Regions from separate parts of the Homo sapiens genome. Here region 2 is linked to region 1. The links come from fine-mapping of genetic effects on gene expression. Tissue or cell type: blood mononuclear cells. Region 1 holds a variant in brackets; the other region holds the start of a gene. All regions are shown on one strand. Distances are from middle to middle.

What was found. PIP is the estimated chance that this variant, and not a neighbour inherited with it, causes the effect.
Region 2: TNFAIP8 starts here. The variant in region 1 is fine-mapped to the expression of TNFAIP8 in blood mononuclear cells (TOPMed, PIP 0.97).

What each region holds. Positions count from the first base shown.
Region 1 is chr5:119,372,386-119,383,042 of GRCh38, reverse strand. The region is part of intron 1 of TNFAIP8 (TNF alpha induced protein 8); the gene reads right to left. Among named protein-coding and RNA genes, the nearest start is that of TNFAIP8, 22 kb to the right of the region's middle. The variant T/AT (reference allele first, on the strand shown) is at 5,282.
Region 2 is chr5:119,351,096-119,361,752 of GRCh38, reverse strand. TNFAIP8 (TNF alpha induced protein 8) reads right to left here and starts at 5,734. Exons shown (of 2, transcript NM_014350.4): 1 at 5,632-5,734. The coding sequence starts at 5,662. LOC102723444 (a long non-coding RNA gene) reads left to right here and starts at 5,980. Exons shown (of 5, transcript XR_007058912.1): 1 at 5,980-6,055; 2 at 7,387-7,498. RefSeq lists silencers at 5,048-5,107, 4,905-5,199, 5,828-5,987 and an enhancer at 6,638-6,777.

The DNA.
Region 1 (10,657 bases):
GCACAAAATGCTTTAATAATACTAAAGGCTTTGAGGATTAGTGCAATAAAGAACCATTTTAACTTTGCTTACCCAAGTTTTGCAAATTAATTTCACAAAGGATACCATAACAAATTTGTAGAATAAAGTCAGTGAAAATAATTGGCTAACAAATTAACTAGGGTTCTTGGTATTCCTCTGGAATGAATTCACAATTATCAGATGCAAATAGGGGAGTACAAGACAGGCAGTCAGGTAAACCCAGGCATTATGGTAATTGCAAGCACCGGCTCTAGAGTCAGACTGGGTCAGGGGCCTTGCCCTGCTACTGAGTGCTCATGTGCCTGGAGCAAATTATCTAACCTCTCTATGCCTCAGTTTCCTCATCTGCAAATGGGACTACCAAGAGGATTAAATGAAAGTAATCCATATAAAGTGCTTAGAACAGCACCAAATATAAAATAATTGGGTCAACTGATGTAAGCAATTATTATTATTATTATCATTATTATGGTAGATACTGTAAACGTTCTGCTGGTATAGGATGCCACAGGTCTTATGATCAGGTCTTGTGAAAGGAGTGTGGCGAAAAGAGAGAACATAAACCCAAAGACATGAGTCAGTCAACAAAAACTTTTGTTGAGTGTGTATAATGTATAAGATACTGTGGTTTCAAAGATAAATAACACTATCCCTCTTCTCCACTCAAGACTCCCAGGGACTGGTCCGGGGATAGATGAGTACACAGCTAGGCAGAATGCACCATAAATTGTGTAACAGGAACATGTAAAAATGCAATGGTAGCAAAGAGTGGAAACATTAGTTTTTGCTGATGGGGTGATAGAGGGAGGTTAGGTTTGAGGAAAGTTTCACAAAAGGAGATTGACTTCAAAGAAAAAGAAGATTCTGCCTTATAGAAATAAATATGATTGTATTTCAGAGCAGATCTGTGGAATTCCTACTGGCTAATTAGGAATTAAAAAATTTTGTTCATCAGTGTACCTATATGTCAGAAACCCAAGGATGTATGTGTCTCCTATGAATTTTAGAAAAAATTGAAACATTATATATAGCTTGTTAAGACCCAGGAAATACTACAAAGGTACTCCGTTTTTTGTTCGGTGTTTTTTTTTATTTTTTTTGAGACGGAGTCTTGCAGGCTGGAGTACAATGGCGCGATCTTGGCTCACTGCAACCTCCACCTCCCGGGTTCAAGCGATTCTCCTGCCTCAGCCTTCTGAGTAGCTGGGACTACAGGTGCCCACCACCATGCCCGACTAATTTTGTATTTTTAGTAGAGACGGGGTTTCACCATATTGGCCACTCTGTCCCTGGTAAAACTCCTCTGGCCAAAGTGCCACCCTTATTGGGAGTATAACCAAGAAATCTTACCCGGGACCCTGGGACTGCTCACAGGAGTGGACCTTCTTACTACATCCTAGGAAAAAGAGACAGGGGAATGGCCTCTATACTGTGGTATATAGTCTCTGTACTCCGTTTTTTTAATTTTTATTTTTTATTTTTTGAGACAGGGTCTTGCTCTGTCACCCAGCTGGAGGGCAGTGGTGCAATCATGGCTCACTGCAGCCTCAACTTCCTGGGCTCAGGTAATCCTCCCACCTCAGCCTCCTGAGCAACAGGAACAGGCACACCACCATGCTTGGCTAATTTTCTGTATTTTTTTGGGTAGAGACAGGGTTTCAACATGTTGCCTACGATGGTCTTGAACCCCTGAGCTCACACAATCTGCCATCCTTTTCCTCCCAAAGTGCTGGGATTACAAGCGTGAACCACGGCACCCAGCCAATACTTGGTTTTCAAGAAGGCTTTGTTTGGCAGGGAGAGGATAGATATAGCAGGTATCTGAGGAAGAATTCTTAGTGTCATGGGCCGTCCACCACAGAAGCGCCGGAGGCCTCTTAGAAATGGCTAAACCAACGGAATCAGAATCTCCAGGATTGCAGTCTGAGAGCCAGCATTTGTAGGAAGCACCCTACCTGATTCTGATATATAGTAAAGTTGGAACACGCCTGCTCTGAGCTGTACTCCTAGAATGCCATACTTAAAATTTTCAGACGTACTCTGGCTATAAAGGCATGCTGTGAGTAGATTATGGACAGATTTAATTCCCTCTCAAGATTTTTTTCACAAAAATACAGATGTCAGCTTGTGCAAGGAATATAGATAAAATGTTTTCTAAACAGAGCTCACTATATTAAACATTTAAAAAAATTTGATAAAGTATCCAAGAGAATAGAAAAGTTAGCCCATTCTAGATAATACTGTAAACCAAAGTTTGAACAGAGCCTAACTCTACCGCTAGGCTACAAAATGGCTTTGAAATTAAATTAAAATATCCTACAATTGTTTATACAAAACTGAACTTAGTGAACTATCCTTTGTCTTTTGAAATTAAATGAATCTTCCTTATTTATTATGTTGAATTAGGATACATTAGTCTTTCTAAAGACTTTTCAATTAAGCTGGATTTATTTACATATTTTCTTGAAGACATAAAACCTTTCCACTGTTGATATAATCCAATCATCTACCAGAATGTAGAGGATAATCCTCTCAACAGCTCCGTGATTTTCTACACTTTTCCATCCCTAAATTCTCCCGTCCTGCCAGAGGCCCTGACTCTTGATGAATATTTATATTCATGCAGGGCTTAGAAAACCAGTAACATTTTAAAATCCAGCACACTAGAGTGAAGTTACTGAACCAGACCCACAGCTGGCATCAATGGTCAACACACCCTTTCTGGTTTCATCAGGTTGCTCCTGGCCACATAACAAAGACAAGAAAACTTACAGTTGATTTTTGTATAGTACTCTACAGTTTGCAAGATATTTTCACTAACACTTTTAAATGAATTTCTGGTTTGGTCCTGTTATTACTTAACCCTGGGGGACCCAGATAAGAGAAGTGAGGCTCAGAAGTCAAGTGACTTATCTAAGGGTGCATAAACAGTGGCAGAGCTGAGGCCCATTACTTCTTACTATAGCACACAGCTGCTCTATAAGAAAAGTGAAATTAGGATAATGTTCATTGTTTATAAATTGCCTACCAAATGCCATGAAGCTGCTTGCCAGCTGCAGAATCCCACTTCTTAGAGCCTGCCTGCTCCCCCAGATAAAGCAACTCCTCGAACTAAAAAGAAGGAGCACAGGCCAGCCACAGTGGCTCATGCCTATAATCCCAGCACTTTGGGAGGCTGAGGTGGGCAGATCACCTGAAGTCAGGAGTTTGAGACCAGCCTGGCCAACATGGAGAGACCCCATCTCTACTAAAAATACAAAAAAATTACCCAGGTGTTGTGGTGTATGCTTATGGTCCCAGCTACTCAAGAGGCTGGGCTGGGAGGATTGCTCAAGCCTGGGAGGTTGAGGCTGCAGTGAACTCAGATCACGCCACTCCACTCCAGCCTGAGTGACAGATGAGACCCTGTCTCAAATCAAATCAAATAAAAATAAAACAAATCAAATGAAGGAGCACAGGTCAAACACATCAGGGAACAGAAACTAAAGAAAAGCTATATATCTGCCTTCACCTTCCCCCTTCATCCCTGCCTGAAAGAGTGCTATTGATCCTGTAAAGCTCAATGTAAATGCCGCCCCTTCCAAAAAGCTTTTCCAAATCCAATGGCCAGAATAAATCTCTCCTAACCTGCTTTTCTGTCTTGTGAAAGAGTTAAATTCCTCTCTTATCTATTTAGAATCCTTGACAAGTAAGGTACAGGTACATGCCTTTTCATCTCTGTATTGTTCAAAGTGCTTAACACGTGCCCTCCAGCTAGCATGGGGTGCACTAAACCCTATGCTCTAATCTGCCTCCATGGAACCCTTCACTCTCTTTTACAGCAATTCATGAAGGTGTATCAGGAAATCAACTCAATTTCTTCTATTTAGAGCTTAATAAATGAATTTATCTGTACTCCATGAATAAACACATAACCCTAAATATGGATACAAACTATCTTTTGTTTTATTTATTTTTAAAAGACAATGTCTCACTCTGTCATCCAGGTTGGAGTGCAGTAGCCAGATCATAACTTACTGCAACCTTGAACTCCTGGGCTCAAGAGATCCTCCACCTTAGCCTCCTGAGTAGCTAGGATTACAGGCGCACACCACCATGCCAGGCTCTCTTTGTAGAGATGAGTTATCACTATGTTGGCCAGGCTGGTCTCAAACTCCCGGCCTCAAGTGATCCTCCTGTCTCAGCCTCCCAAAGCACTGGGATTACAGGCGTGAACCACTGCGCCCAGCCACCTTTTGCTTTAAAGGGGAGGAAGCTGTGTAAAAGAAATGCATTTTCATTTTTTTAATCTATTGCTTTTCTTCCCTGCCCTTTGCCAAAACATACAGAATAACCAGCTACTTTTGTTTGGAGAAGTGACCATATTTAGTTAACTCAATCCTTACAGCAAATGTTCTGGAATCTTCCATGCAAAGATCCCAAACCCATCTGTTTGAATATTTTAGGAGCAGTAACCTCTTGGCCTCAGCTTGGGCATCTCTCAAATATGCATCTTGGCACAACCTCTCAACATTCTTGTCACAATTTTTCCTCAATAACTGTATCCAAATGTTGTTAGGCATTTCATAGCCATGTTAATGTCAGGAGGCTAGATCCAGTTAAAGGTAAACAAAGAGTAAGATGGAATTTGCTAGGCTTTCATGTAAACGATCTCATTTTAAATATCAAGACACTCTGAAGCTCTGAAATTCTAGGAAAAAAAAACCCAGAGTTCTATAGAAGCAGTATTGCTCACCACCAGCACAGCATTTATATTCTCTGTGAAGTGGTTGTTACCCCTTTCTAACCTTTCCTCTCCGCATGCCCAGGCATCCCCGTTTTATTTAGATCAGGATGCCTTGCAGAAGTTGTAACCTGGATATCATATTATTTGGCCCATCCAGGATTGTACTTTAGGATTAGTGGTCCATGTTAGAAAATTGGGAAATTTAGCTTCAACATGTGTGTGTCTGATTTTCTTTGAACAATCAGATCTGACCAAATGGGCCCACGTTCTCATATGACAACAATGGATTTGAGCTAAATTATGGCTGCCTCCTTTAGAAGACTACCCTTTCCAGCTTACCACATCCCTCCTGGCCATCTACACATTTCTGTTCATTTCCTGGGTTCTGTAGGCATTTGCGTAGGTAATCACTGCCTTACAGAAATAAATGTGATTATATTTCAGTGGAACAACTCCTACTGGGTAGTCAGGAATTAAAAATCTGGCCCAGCAGTGTACCCGTATGTTGGAAACTGAGGGGCATGTGTGGGGTCT[T/AT]GGATTTGTGAAATAATTTAAACACAACTTATATGAGGTTCTAACGAGGGGTTTGCAAGGTGAAGTGGTGGGAAGGTTAAGAGTGATCATGATTTGTTTTCATAACACTTGTTCATAGACTTCAGGAAGCTACATTTGAGTACCAAAATCTCCTTATTTCTATAGAATGTGTCAACTAAGTCACAGAGCGGTGGTAAATTTGACAAATTTACAATGATCCCAGGAGAAAACTGAACTTGGATTCTCCATACCAGTTTGGAGCTCTACACAGTCAAGAGCCTTATGGCAGAAAAACTTTCCCCCATTCATTCCCTCACTCTTTCTCCAACAAATTTTTATTTTTTATTTTTTTTTTACTTCTTATTTAATTATTTATTTGAGACAGGGTCTCACTCTGTTGCCCAGGCTGGAGTGCAATGTCACTCTGACCTCCTAAGCTCAAGTGATCCTTTCACCTCAGCCTCCTAAGTAGCTGGGACCACATGTGCATGCCACTATGCTTGGTTAATCTTTGCATTTTCTGATAGAGACAGGGTCTCGCTATGTTGCCCAGGCTGGTCTCAAACTCTTGGCCTCAAGCAATCCTCCTGTCTTGGCCTCCCAAAGTGCTGGATTACTGGATGAGCCACCAGGCCCAGCCTCATTCAATACACTTTTATTTTATTAAGCAACTGTTATGTGCCAGGCAAAGTGCCTACTCTCAGGAAGCACAGATTCTAGGACACCTAATATATAAACAAACAAACAAACATATATAAATACGTCAAGCAGCAATATAGGCTAAAAGAAAAATGAAATGTGTGTATGGGAGGGGGAACTATGTTATTTTATCTAGGGTACTTGATGTACTTGGGGAAGGCCTTTCCGAAAAGGCGACATTTGAGCAGAGGCATGAAGGAATCAAGGGGGACCTGTCTTGAGTTGGTGAAGTCTCCCACAGTCCCTCCCAAATATCACCTTCCAAATATCAGGAAGTCCTCATTGACCGTCCATTCAGAAATGCTCTATCCTGTCTCTAACTGCTGTTGGAAACTGCTTATCATACTTTTGTTTCCGTACTCCCTGAAAGTAAATCCTAGTGATTGGTTACAATTTATTGTTTATTCCTTGCAATAAATGACCAATTAATCTTTAATATGTATCTGCTGGATTAAAAGCATTCTCAGGTTGTTTCTGGGGGAGCAGAAAGACGGGGGGGGTGGGAAGACAATGAATACTGATTTTTATAAAACAACCGAAATAAGAGGCTACAAATAAATAACATTAGATTTAATTATATTTCAAATACTCTTACATATGAAATAAATATTCCAATGCAGTCCTTTTGAAAAAGTTTATTTTTGCCGGGTGCAGTGGCTCACACCTGTAATCCCAGCACTTTGGGAGGCTGAGGTGGGCGGATCACCTGAGGTGACAGAGAGCAGTTCGAGACCAGCCTGGCCAGCATGGTGAAAGCCCATCTCTACTAAAAATACAAAAATTAGCCAGCTGTGGTGGCACATGCCTGTAATCCTAGCTACTCAGGAGGCTAAGGTGGGAGAATCTCTTGAAGCCGGGACGGGGAGGTTGCAGTGAGCCGAGATTGCACCACTGCACTCCAGTCTGGGCAACAGAGCAAGATTTCATCTCAAAAAAAAAAACAAAAAAGAAAATTTAAGTTTATATATATTTTTTCATTTTAATTTCAGTGTTCTTTGGGTGGAAAGTGTTTATTCTAAATGCGACATTTCATCACTAAAGATAGGCATCCAAAAAGTCATCTGATAACATTTGGAACTGGCAAAAACTACTGAATAACCCACACTTTGAAAAATAATAATTGTTTTTAGTACAAATGTTGGTTCAAGATTTTTAAAAAGTCATATTCTTTAGGTTTAAGTCATAAGAAAAAGGCAGAAACTCTACCTTTCTTTGCTAGTTTGCTACGAAAGAAAAAAAGCTGAAGATTAACTAAGGATATAATCCTTACTTTAAGATCCTAAATTGAACATTTTGCCTCTATTGAAATCGGCAAACTTAAAATTATATTTAAAATTTAATAGAGCCTCCCAAAAGTTACAAAGACAAATTGTTTTATTAAAATAATTATATAATCCTTTGATGTTGATGACATATACTTGCTATATTAAACTCATTTTCCACTTGAAGAAAATAACTAAAAAGATCATTATAGTCGTTCCCTGGTAAGAACTGAAAAACGTTTTCCAAAATATACGAACTTGCTGTCTTGAAGATTAATTACTTCTCTAATGGTTAATATCTGGGTAAAATAAACTTTGGCAAGTAACATAACACAACCAATCAATGTTATAAGTAGTTGCAAAATAAAATAAATTTCTTCTCTAAAATACTTGAGCAGCCCCCACCTTTCGTAGCTGTGTCTTTTCACCTACTCACTCGTTACTCTAAAAGAAAGTCCACCACTCCACATCTCACCATTTCTATCATGGGTCCTATTTTAGGAGATAGAAGAAGCCGTGGAGACCACAGGAAGAAAAACAGAGGCCTAGAGGTTAACGTAGGGATCACAACATGACCCCCATTAATTCCCAATCACTTGCTCCCCTGTGGAAAGGTGCTTTCTGTTGGGATTATGAAAAGCAGCAAATAGCAATTCCTCCATTTGAAGCAAAGCTTACAAACTTTTGGCAGGCAACATGTTTTGGCTGGGCCCTCATAGTGTTTTTTTCTTTTTCTAATTAAGATAAAATTCATATCACATAAAATTCACCACTGTAAGCATTTTAAAAATCTACAATTCAGTGGTTTTTACTATATTCACAATGTTGTGCAACTATTACCACTATCTAACTCCAGGACATGTCCATCACCCCCAAAATTGGCCCCCAAAAGGTTCTAAGTTTTATTTCTGTAATTAGTATTTAAAAAAACTTGTAGAAGTTGGGAACTTTCAATAAAAATTCACATTTCTGGCTTCTCAGAAAAAAATCTGACCTTCTGGCAATACTGAGGGAGGAGAGTGGGAAACACAGGGTCCTCTCCAATTAGCCCCCCGGCCATTCCAGCACTTGGGTAATTTCCTGGCTCCCGTAGGCATATGCCCTAGCTACCCCGCATTGAAATGATCAGGGGCTCAAACCATTCTGAATCACTTTGCAGACAGCCTTGAGTATAAGATGCAAAGAGCTACAGCCCTCTGTTCCCTGCGCTGGCAACCAAGCTGAGCTAGAAGGCGTCCAACTCTGACTCTTCAACAGGACCCCCTGGGCTTCTGCCAACTTCTTACTCACCTTTCTCTCAAAATGTTACCTTCTCCATCCCAGGATCTTTGCTGGAATCTCTCTTCCCCTGAAAAGTCATGCTGTATCTATGTGAGGAACATCCTAACCCACTTGCCTTGTTTTCTATTTACTATCGGTACAGGTTGAGCATCTCAAATTTAAAAATCCAAACTCCAAAATATGCCAAAATTGGAAAGTTTTTGAGAGCTGATATGGCACTCACTAAAACAAAATGCTCATTGGAGCATTTCAGATTTCAAATTTTTGGATATAGGATGCTCAACCAGTAAGTATAATGCAAATATTCCAAAAATCTGAAAAAAAAAATCCAAAATCTAAAACACTTCAGTCCCAAGCATTTTGGATAAGCGATACGCTACCTGTATTTTACTTTAACTTATGGTTACTTAATGTATTTGTATTAAAAAAATTAATTCACATAAAAGGAAACCCTATATACTATGTGAATGGAAACTGATACTCCCCTAAATATATCATTAAAAATCATTAAAAAATGTTTAAAACCATAAGAAATAATTCAATGAGGAAAAAAAACACCAATACTATTAGTTTCTAGCCAGATATTGTTGCCTGCCAAAGGCTATGAATCCCCATCTACCTACATGGCACAAAAAGAGGTAAGCTTCTGTGAGCTGGCAGAGATCACATAGCCCAAAACGCAGGCATTCTCTGTGAATGATGTCAAGGACTCCAAGGACACTGAAAAGGAACTAATTTTTTTGTGATATGACTGAAGATGATTTAATACTATACCTGGGACCTCCTAAAATCAGTCACTGTACTACCAGTGGCATACGTACCATATTTGGGAAACAACCACACGTCCAGTCTTCCAAAGCTTCATGCCAATCCCTTCCGTCTCAACAGTTCTGCCTCAAAGATCTCAGCCACAGACAGCCCTTCTGAAACCTCTCTAACCCCCATGTAATATGTACTTTCTTGTATGCATGTTAACTCCTCTAGACTGAAAACTACTCAACAGCAGCAACAGGTCTTCCACATTGCATACTCCTCCTCTGGTGAAGGTACCAGTATTAACTTATCCCTAGTCACTTTCCCGTTGTATGCCTGTCTTGACGTCCCGGTGAGGAAAGTTTTGAAGTGACTTTTTAGAATTCCAAACAAGCTTCTAAATGAAATGAATGAAAAATGTCTTAGTACATGAAGTGCCTAACATAGGGAAAATATCTGCATCTCTTCACTCTCTCTTACATTTTGGGGTAAGAGTAATTTTACTATTGGGAAGTCATTCTTGGTGTACTAACAAGAGCTATCCCACATACGGCAGTTTTTATCTTATAGGAAAGTCAGTGTGGCCAGCAGGCTGTCGAAAAGGGGTTGGGTATGGTTATTAAGCTTTGTGTCTGGGGTGGATGAAGGGACTGAGTGTCTTCTGTAATGACTTCAGGTGTAATACATACCCAAGAAGAATCCAGTCATACTACCAAGGTCAGCATGGTAGAGATATAGGACAAAGATCATAAAAAATAAATGCAGTGTTAACTAACATAACTTTATTATTTATTTATTTTATTTTTGAGATGGAGTCTCAATCTTTCACCCAGGCTGGAGTGAAGTGGCGCCATCTTGGCTCACTGAAACCTCTGCCTCCCAGGTTCAAGCGATTCCCCTGCCTCAGCCTCCCGAGTAGCTGGGATTACAGGTGTGCGCCACCATGCCTGGCTAATTTGTGTATATTTTAGGAGAGATGGGGTTTCACCATGTTGACCAGTCTGGTCTCGAACTCCTGACCTCAGGTGATCCTCCTGCCTCGGCTTCCCAAAGTGCTGGGATTACAGGCATGAGCCATAGTGCCCAGCCACTAACATAATTTTTTAAAAAAATGTTAAGATACAATTTATGATGGTCAACTTGTATTTTTATGGTATGTGGGCTACTTTTTCTAAAAGACTGGAGCCTTTATAAAATCTGCACACATAGCGGTGGCCATTTAACAAAGCTAGGAATTTATTTTACTTAGTCAAATGATTAGCAAGGTTTACGGTCATATCTTTGTTCTTGGAAAATATTATATTATTGATCATATCTAGCTGTTATTTTATAAGTTCTTATAAATAATAAACTCTAAAACATCATTTCTATGAAGAAAGAC
Region 2 (10,657 bases), 21 kb after region 1:
ACATATTGAAGCCAGGTGAGCTGGCACCAAGCATAAATGGCAGGTCAAACTGGAAGGAAAATTCATGAGCTGCTTATTCACTTCTTGACAGTCAACCCTGACTTCAACAAATGTGGTCTGGAGGCTTCAGGCACCTAAAGCTATCAGAGCCACGTAGGGAATTCTGCTTATAGTCTCTTTGCTTCATCACCTTCTTAGAAGAAACTCTGTTCCTAGTTACTTATAAAATTAACTATTATTCACTACAAAGCTGGAGAATGTATTATCATTAAGTCCACATAAACACAACTCCTCCCCTCCCCCATCTTCAAAACCATATAAATACCAGCTTAACTAACAGGCTTTACTCAATCTTACAGATTCCCAGGGCAGCACTCCCTTAGGCAATTTATTCCCAACTCAGCAGTTAGTCACTCAGGACATACTACATCCCTGTACCTCTTCTTCAAGGCTTATAAACTTTTAGAATAAAATTTAAGCAATTGCTCTTTCAGATATCTTGGTCAGCGGCTGGGGGGGCAGTGCGCTGCAGCCCCGCAAATGCTTCCTGAGAAAGGTGTCCTGACTCCCAGAGTGCACCGGGCCTGCTGCAATGTGCTCCAGAGAAAGAGAGGCTGTGGGATGTCTGCTTTTGCAATAGCACATTCTGTGTCAGAATGCTGACTCCCTTCCCACCCACACACATACATACCTTCTCCCCAAGGAAGAGTGTCTGTACCCAACCAACACCCTCAATAGCTAATTTTTCCTGAATGATATTCTCAAAGGAATGAAAACAAGTGAGCTCACTGTTTACCTGCCTCTCACTTGGTCTACAACTTTCAAAATCCGGGATCTAATAGGATCTACTTGCAGAGCTAAATTTTATTTCACAATGTCTCATGTTTTATTCTCTTGAGTTACACGTAGAAGGTGAAACAGGAAATCTTCATTTGTTTAAACATTCATCTGCGTTTTATAAATCCCCCCAAGAGGTAGTGAATGACAACTATACAAACAGACTAGGTCTGTCCTACTTCAAGGAGAGTGCATACAAATACCCAGGATGCTAAAACCTGTGTTTGCAAAAATCCTTGCTTGCAGAACATGTATTAAAGAGGATAGAAAGGGCTTGGCAATCACCTTGCTGGGCCTCAGTGCCTCACCTCTAAAATGAAGAGGTCAGAAAGAAGGATTGGCAAAGTCGCTTTTAGCTCTAAATCATGGTGATTCTATGTGTATTTGGTGGGAGAAGGGCACTTTAAATTACAGAAGACTTCTTACTACAGACCTTCCTTAAACATTAAAGATATACATATCATTTGGTTTTGTTTTAATTCAGCTTACACTATGTTTTAAAGAACAATCTTCTCTAAATGAAGACAGGTCTATAACCACACTAATCTCACTGACTTACAAGTTGCTAGCATAAAGACAGAAATGCTGACAAATAAATGATTTATAGGTAAATCCAGCAATTCTGCAGTGTTCTGAAATGCAATCGCTGGGTCCTGAGTTTTTCTGGCTCTACTGCATTCTCTTTCACCCACCCACTTTTTGGCTACTTCCTGGATCACCAACAGTCAGGAGCAGGAAATTTAATCATCCATATAATCCTGACTGTTCAATGGCGTAAGGTGGGGGCAAGAAAGGTAGGATGCATATTCAATATGATAAAAATTTCAGAAGTGAGGGGAAAAAAGCTCCAAATGCATTTAAGTTTACAGAGCTGGAGGTGTCTGGCAATGCCAAGTTATCAAGTGATGTCCACTGTAGAGGAGAGAGTATGATAGATCTCTAAATGGATTTTCCACTTTTAGTCCTTGTCAGCACACAACACTCCAAGCCTAATGACTACATAAAAGGAAACAGATAAGCACGTCAAAGTCCGGTGTTTAAGAGCATATGCTGTACCTTTTACATTATGTATGACATCAAGGTCAGCTATACCCCTTGGTTTCATCAGAGCTGAACCACTGCTTTAACCTCCTTTTCTCTTCATTCCCTCTGCAAAGCAAAGGCTGGGGAAGGGCAGGAATAGGGGAGAAAACTTACAAAATAGTCCTTAGTGATGAATGATATTATATAAGCTGCCACACCATGTGAGGTTAAAACAGAGTACTACACAGTGTGGTAGCTTATAAAATATCATTGGGATTCTTATTACAGAAGAGGATATTAATCACCACTACGGAACAACTAAACTTTTTTTTTTTTGCCAAGGATTAACTTTAAAGAATGGAGACCATTCACTCAATCTACAACATTTAATGAGCACCTTTTACTCTGTAGGTCCTAGACATACAGCGGGGAATAAAACAGACATTGTTTTTCCCTGCAGAGCTTGTGGTCTAGAAGAGATGTTAAGCAGTGTGGGGAGAGCCAGCAAGGAAAGGAACAGGTGCTCTGAGAGAGGGCGACAGGGGATCTGAGTTTAGGTTCAGAAAAAGCCTCTTTAAAGAGCTGACCAAGAAAAGGAGGTCAGGTGGAGAGAAGGATATTTTGGGCAGGAAGACCAGCAAGTGCCAATGTCCTAGAATGGGGAGCTTGAGTTCTTCTATATGCAGAAAAGAAGGAGCCAGGAAGGATATGGGCTGACTGGTGTAGGAGGAGCCCAAGGTGGAAGGCGGGGCATTCTGCAGTAGGAATGACACCTGTTCCACAGACACAGGGAGGATAGATGTGGACGGAGATGAGTCTGTCAGTCTGGGAACAGGACGTTGAGGGAGTTATCTAATGGCTACTGTTTTCTTTGTGAAATAGCAGGCCTGGTGAGGCATGAGAGTAAGAACTGGGTGAGGTGGTGGTGGGAAATGGCTACTATGGGCAATGGAGGAGCGAGCCAGACTCACTCACCACTCAATCCTCACTCTTTTCCAAGTCCCCACAAAGTGACACCTCGCCCACCCCTTAACAATGGCTTTCTCAATTTCTGGTATCAATGCTTCAACATCCAGAGCAAAGGAGCCCTGGATGCCTTGATGCTTAGCACTAGAAAGATTCTCAGAGATCTCAACTGCCACTCACTTTAACTACTTCATAATTAAGCAATTTACTCAGGAAACAACTAAATGCCAAATACACGGCTATCAGCCTATCTCCTCAGGAAGCCCCATCCACTGGAAACTGTTGATATCCTCTTTTTAATGGTAGTCACCTTTTTAAAAAAGTGAGTTTCTTCTTTCATTTCCCCTTCTTTCCTATTTATTCTATGTCTGAATAATTTAAACTCATTCAGTTTTTAATAAAGCAAGGCCTGGATTATTTTTCTCTGTTTAATACCCAAGCACAATCACTTATTCATTGTTAAGCAGGAAAAATTAAATCAATTATTTAGGAGATGGCTATAGGCTGGGGACAAATATCCAGCACCCCTGGCACAGAGTCAAGTATGTTTTAAGCTCTGATGGCTTAACAATATCCCCAGTCATTTGCTTCTACATTCACGCATATGCAAAAATATGCTGGCCTCCAAGGACTTAGATTCAACCCCAAAGTATACTAGTCTCTCACTACAGTTGAGAAAAATGACTTAAAAGTATCTCCTCTTACAGCGTATCAGGCATGAAGCATCCAAAGGCAGTTTTCTTGCAATACAGACATTCTTAAGAACTCATGGTGATCTCACACTAAATGGGATACATAAGTTCACCAGGATGAAAAAAAAAAAAAAAGCTACGTATAAGAGGAAAAGGACTAGTAACGATAGAGAAGATAACTGAGTTATTTACACAACATAGCTCGCTTCATCGACATCTGAGTGGTGGTAGCTAACCAGAAGGTTCTAGATTACAGCCAATGAACCAGCCTTGGAGAAAACACACCCAAAACACACAGACACCTATCCTTCATTTCCTGGCAGAAGCTATATGATTCTATCTGATTAATAAAGTGTTCAATCTCCCTCAAGAGTTATTCAGTATCCCACCCTAATTGCTATCAATTTAAAATTCTACTACCTCAGATTATTTTAAAAGAAACATTCTGGGCTTTCTTTAAAAAGCAGAGCGCCATATCATTTGTGGCCGATCTGCAGAATGTAAATGATGACAAGTGGAGGGAAGGTGAGGAACAAGCAGAAGGGGCCCCATTAACCTCTTCATAGGCCAGTTTGCAGGCTGCTTCCAAACTTAAAACCAGAGAGCTGGGCCCTCGAGGAGGGAAGACTGTGGATGTTGCTATGGGAATGTATAATACACACTTTGGGATACTGTTTTTCCACTTTCTCTCCCACTCTCTCTTTCTCAAAAGACAGGGAAAACACACCTGAGAGAAAACGCCAGCTTAAGTGCTACTTGTAATTCACACAGAAGTTCACCCTTGAGTTCTCTCAGCCTGGTTCCTATTTGCCTTCAACTACCTTTGACTTTGAATAAACTGCTGGTATAAAGACATAGAAAAGAAAAGCATCTATCAGCACACAGCTCCATCAGAACACAGGACACGGCAAGAAAGCATTACTCCCCCCATACTCCACATCAAACTCAAAAACAATGCTCCTGGCTGTCATTTTTCATTCATGCCAGCCCCGTATTTCTATTAAACAAACCTCCTTTTTATTGACTATTTCCCTCACACAGCATAATAAGGTAAACGTGAGCCCACAAAGACTACATGGTGAAACACAAAGCTTTCCTCTGGGAGGGGAATCAGTAAAAGGCAGAAGAGGACAAGTTTCAAGGGCTCTTCCTAACTGGTGTCTACCAAATGGAGAAATGATGGGGCTGCTCCTCTGCCAGAACTGCTGTGATTGACTTGAAATTAACCAGCTTTCCAAGAGACTACATGAAAAGAAAGAGTATTTCACAATCTTGAATAGTCTCCTCTCTTACTCTCTAATTTTCCCCAACCACCCTTACTCCCACCCCCCACTTACAAGAGAACTTTTGTATACATAAAGTTTCAAGGAACAAAGCATACAAACACTCACACACAAATAAACTCCCCAAACTAACACCAGCGTATAATTGTGTTTTGGTTGGAGCTTTTCCAGCCCTGTCACCTGTTCTCTGTTAGGAGTAAATGAAACCCTTTGCTTTTGCGAAGTTAGAAACAGACAAACTCTTCTCAGTTTCAAGCTGCACAAGGACCCCCTCATATCTTTCAGCCCCCTCAAACCCCCAACGAAATGAACTCACTGCTGAAAACCCAGCAATGAAAAAAAATTAATCTATTTCTCAAATACAGATTTTCGCTTCCCCTCACTCAGCTTCCCCTTTTAGCCGGAAACATATAGCGTTTCTAATTTCTCAAACCCCTTTTCAAGGGACCCTCCACTCAGGGCTCTTCCAGGGATCCCGCTTTCAGTCTTTCTGATGCAGGCAGGCAGCCCTTTTCCAAGCACATTTTGCATTCTTGGAGTCCAAGTGGGGCTCTTTCGTTTCCAGAGAAAGCTAAAAAGCAGACTTAGTGGGCTGGCTGAACTAGGTCCGACTTTTCCTCCCCTCCCCTCTGAACGGCTGCGGGGGGAGAAGGGAGCCCAAGATGAGACCCGGGCTCCGCTTATCCAGCTCCGACTTGGCTTCGAAGGCGCAGGGCAAGCGGACAAAGTGCCCACCGCTCACTTTAAAACTCCCATCCTCTTCTACCACTGCCTTCCTCCAAATTCCTCCGCAGAACTTGGCCGGCCCCCAGGAGAAACCAGAATCCTACCTTCCTTGGATTCTTCTGCTTCGGAGTGCATAATGTCAGGATAACCAGCTGCAGGGGCGATTACCGCTCACATGTACTCGGACGAGCCGCAAGTTCGCTCTGCAGCGAAATCCGCACACGACGGAAAATAAAAGGAAGAAAGCCACTAAAATCAAAACCTCCCCGGGGCGGGAGAGCGGGTTCTGGTGCAGGGATTTTCAGGGGGAAAGTTCTGCAAGAGTGACGAATCGCGTGTCAGCTGGGCGGCGGGAGTCCGCCCCCGGAGCCGCGCGCTCGGGCCGGCAGCCGGGCGGAGGCGACCTGGCGGGGCTGGCTCGGCCCGGGCGCACGCAGGTGGGGCACAGGCCCAGACGGCAGCCGACTCTCCCGAGACACAGGGCCGAGAAGAACCGTCGGCAAACGCACCAGACGGGCGGAAAAAAAGGTATAAAAAGAAAAAAAAAGTCTCATCTCAGAGCACACTGTAGTTTTACATAAATAGCAAATGCATATAGGGTAGAACCAATGCCTCTGTATTTTTGGATTACATTTTTTGATGCCCATTTGACTTTGTCTTGGAGTCTTGCAACCCAAAAATTACGGATTTTAAAGCGGCTTTGGTATGTTATTTTTGTAGGAAAGTCGCATGGATATCGTCCATGGGGTTGCAAGGACCAGCTTAAGAGAGCACAATTTCACAAGTCCCAGAGCGGGGCCTTTTGAAGAAAGTGGAGCGGCCTCCACCCTTACCTTTGCACAGCAAAAGCAGACGGGGCTGCTTACTCATTCAGTATAGCCCCGGGCGAGCACTGGTACTCCAAGCACAGCCCGGGCACTCATTGCTGCAGTTACTCCAAAGGGCCTTCCTCAGGGGGAGAGCACGGTTCCCTCCCGGCTACCAGCAAAAACTGGGGATGAATTCCTTCAAAATGCCAAAGGGGAGGTTTTCAGGATTTGAAATGCTGATAGAATAAAGAAGCCGGACAGCCTTCACAACAGATCTCAATTCTGCCCCCGGGTCTGGCCCACAGGCCCCTACAAATTGGCTGAGAGGAAGTCCCCTTAGCTCTGTGGAGCCTTGGTTTTCCCTTCTGCAAAGCGGGGACAAGAGCTGCCACTGATAGGCCTGTCTTACGGAGGTATTTTGTAGAACACTTGTTTTATCGCCAGTCTGAGGCAAAAAGTCCTCAAATAACATATCTGAAAGATCCGCTTGGAAATTATGAGAAAAAAATATACTCTTTTGACAAATTTATTTTCCAGTTCGTTTCTTTTTCTTCGTTTCCGATTTTATATAGGCAAAAACCAATAGAAACACTATGGCAAATTTAGTGAAAAGAACGTACAAAAGACATGGATTTAAGGAGTCTGAACTTAAATCCAGTTCTGCCATCTATCATTTGTATGACCTTATGCAAATTAACCTCTCTGAGCCTCCAGTTCCTCATTTGTAAAATGAAGATAAAAATAGTATTATTTACTTCACAGATTTATGTCTGTATTAAATAAGGTAATATAAGCACAAAGGGATTTGAAAACCATAAGGACTACATAGATTATTACCATTGCACCATTAAAAGTAAATTTTTATAAAACATACTCTTGGGTTTTATTTCAGTATTGACTTTGAACAGAAAAGAGTGCTTATGCTATTCACAAGCAGTGAAGGCTATTATAAATATTAATGTAAGAGGTCTAGATATTAAATCACATCCTACTGCTGAGAGATTCTAACCTGCCTAAGATTCTAACATGTTATCTCAATTTCACTGAAAGAGCAGGATGAAGGGAGGAAGATATAGCCAGCCAGAGAAGGGAGAAGAGGAGAAACATCTGGAAAATATCAGTGTTGCAGAGCCTCCCGGAAACTGACCTCGCCACCGAAAGGGTAACAGACTGCACCCTTCCGAAAGTCACAGTTAACTTCATGGTCCCCTCTGCCACACATCCTGAGTCAGGAGCTGCTGATATGTATACCTTGCACTCAGTAATCTCAGACTTATGGGGAGATACACTGAGATGAGGATGATTCTGAACCCAAAGAAATGCTCCCTCACCAGTCACAAGTGGCTTTTCCTGTCCTGCCCAAGTCAACATTCTGCCCCTCTCTCCCTATACCATCTATCCTTGCCCTTCCTCACTGCAACCCAGATGTCCACAGATAGTCCACAAGAGATCTTAAGGGATCTCACCAGGGCCGTGTGCTACACAAGAGAGCTTCCACTGATCTATAATTGGGGTAAAGCAACACCTTTTCAAGGTGATGATTATGCAAATCCAGACAACCCAAATTTCAGGCCCAATCTGCCTACAGCAGAATTACTTTCACTCTCTTCTTTTAGAAAGTACCCTTACAAGAAATATTTATTAAATGTCATTTTGCAAGTCCAACTGGGGACAAACCACATAAGATATGTTAAAATACATGTCCTTTAATGTGCTACTTGTTTTACAACTGCTGAATGAATAGTTCAAGCGCTCCGTCAGCCTTATAATTCATTTTAGATTCATGTTAGCTTCGTTGATCTTTGAACATTCACCATCGGCCTCAGGAAGCCTGGAGAGAAACTTCTTTTGTATTTAAATGCAAGCAAGCAGTCACCTTGGGGAAGAATGCTCTGTTTTAGCTCAAGAGCAATGAATGCTCAGCTTATTTTAAAAGGCTTTATGTGAATAAGTACATTCCTCAGTCTCCCGTATAACCTCAAAGCCATCTGCTCTGGGCAGGCTGCATTGCCCCATACCCCTACCCTGCAACATGGTGACAAAGGGCAGCTGATTCTCTAGGGCTCCCCTTGGCCTTCTGCTGCTCTCAGATATGTACTAGGTCATTTTGATTTTGCTGTGCTTTTATTCAAAAGGGGATAATTTACTTCTTAGCCCCAGTGAATAATGGTCCAGTACATCATAATGATTTGTTATCTCCTGTAGGTGGGACTTGTTGATTCTTGTATGTTTAAGAAACACCCCAAACATCCTTCACATGGCAACATGTATGGAAGTCATACCAACAAACTATTACCGCCCGCCTGATACAAAATTGCAACTAAGTTAGCAACACTTCTCATTTAATAACAAACTGTACTTAAATTTAAATACTATGTTGAACTCCTGCAAGTGTCTAATAATGGAACTCCCACCTTTTGTGTCAAGATGGAAGAATGAAAATGGTAGCTAAGATTCTGAAGGTTTATTCATTCATTGAGGTATAATCAAATATTTGTGTGTGTCATATGTAAATTGACCCTACTCACCTGGGGCTTATTGACATAATTTTGTTAATTTGACCACAGACCTAAAGAACTCAACTTTCCAAGTCACCTTGGTTCTAAGGAAGGTTTATTAACACCAACTCTCGACTGAACTTTATCACAGGGCAGCAGAAAAATCTCTTTCCAAATTATGCCTTAAATAAAGCTGTTCAAAGAGTTTTTTTTAAAGGCCTGACTTTTAGGCCTTTTGCTCACAGCTCCCCAGATGTCTGTTAAGAAAAGGGGAGATCAGTGAGTTTTCAGACTCACACAAATTAGAAGGCCAGCCGGCAGAACTGGGAAGACAAGGTACCTTTTAATTAGGAGGTATCAAATATTCCACTCACATTCAAGAATGTTATATGTTCTCTGCAGTGAAAAATATGAAGCACCTCTGTAAACTAGTTATGGACCTATAGCCTCTAGTTCGCAAAAACTTCAGGTCACCAAAAATGGTCATTTTTTTTTCTAACCTGCTGAGGCTGAATCTGCTTCCTTCAATTTCACTTTGAGACCTTCTTCAACTTCTCTTGTATCATTTTTGTCTACACCCTTGAAAGCCTTCGAAGGCTTCCGTGATCTATATAAAAAGTTGGCTGTCACTCCTGTTTCCCCATATGCGGGAGAGATCTGTGTCTTGGTCTCACCTGGTTAGGCCTGTAGGCTTTGAGTTCTTCCTATTATCCTCAGACACATTTACATTTACCCTTCCATAACACAAGTAAGCCTAAGTGGGTATCTCTCCATGGCCTCTCCCTGGCCCAGGTTATTTGGCTCTCTTAGCCTTAAGAAAATGGTATTTATGGCCGGGCACAGTGGCTCACCCCTGTAATCCCAGCACTTTGGGAGGCCGAGGCAGGTGGATCACAAGGTCAGGAGTTCGAGACCAGCCTGGCCAAGACAGTGAAATCTCATCTCTACTAAAAATACAAAAATTAACTGAGCACAGTGGCAGGCTCCTGTAATCCCAGCTACTTGTGAGGCTGAGGCAGAAGAATCGCTTGAACCCAGGAGGTGGAGGTTGCAGCAAGCTGAGATCGTGCCACTGCACTCTAGCCTGGGCAACAGAGTGAGACACCATCTCAAAAAAAAAAAGAAAAAAAGAAAAAGAAAAGAAAGAAAAGAAAAAGAAAAAAGAAAATTGTATATACTAGAATTGAAAAAGGGAATGCTAAAATGACAGTGGAGTCATTTATACACTTTTGCAGAAGATCAAGCTCTGTGCCTCAAGTAGCCTTAAGTGCTGAGTACAGATGCTCCTCAACTTAGCGATGGGGCTACATCAGGATAAAACCATCATAAGCTGAAAATATATTTAATACACCTAACATACTCAACACCATAGCTTAGCCTAGCCCACCTAAAATGTGTTCGGAACACTTACATTAGCCTACAGTTAGGCTAAATTATCTAGTACAAAGCCTATTTTATAATAAAATGTTGACTATCTCAGGTAACTTTTTAACACTGCACTGAAAGCAAAAAAAGCAGAATGGTTGTATGGGTGTTCAAAGTATAGTTTCTACTGAATGTGTATCACTTTTAGTACAATACAAATAGAGTAAGGCTGGGCACACTGGCTCATGAATTTAATCCCAGCACTTTGGGAGGCTGAGGTGCAAGGATTGTTTGTGGCCAGAAGTTTGAGACCAGCTTGGACAACATAGAGAGACCCTAACTCTACAAAAAAATTTTTAAAAGGTTAACCGAGTATGGTGGTGCATGCCTGTAGTCCTAGCCACTTGGGAGACTGAGGCAGGAGGATCACTCTTGCCCAGGAGTTCAAGGCTACAGTG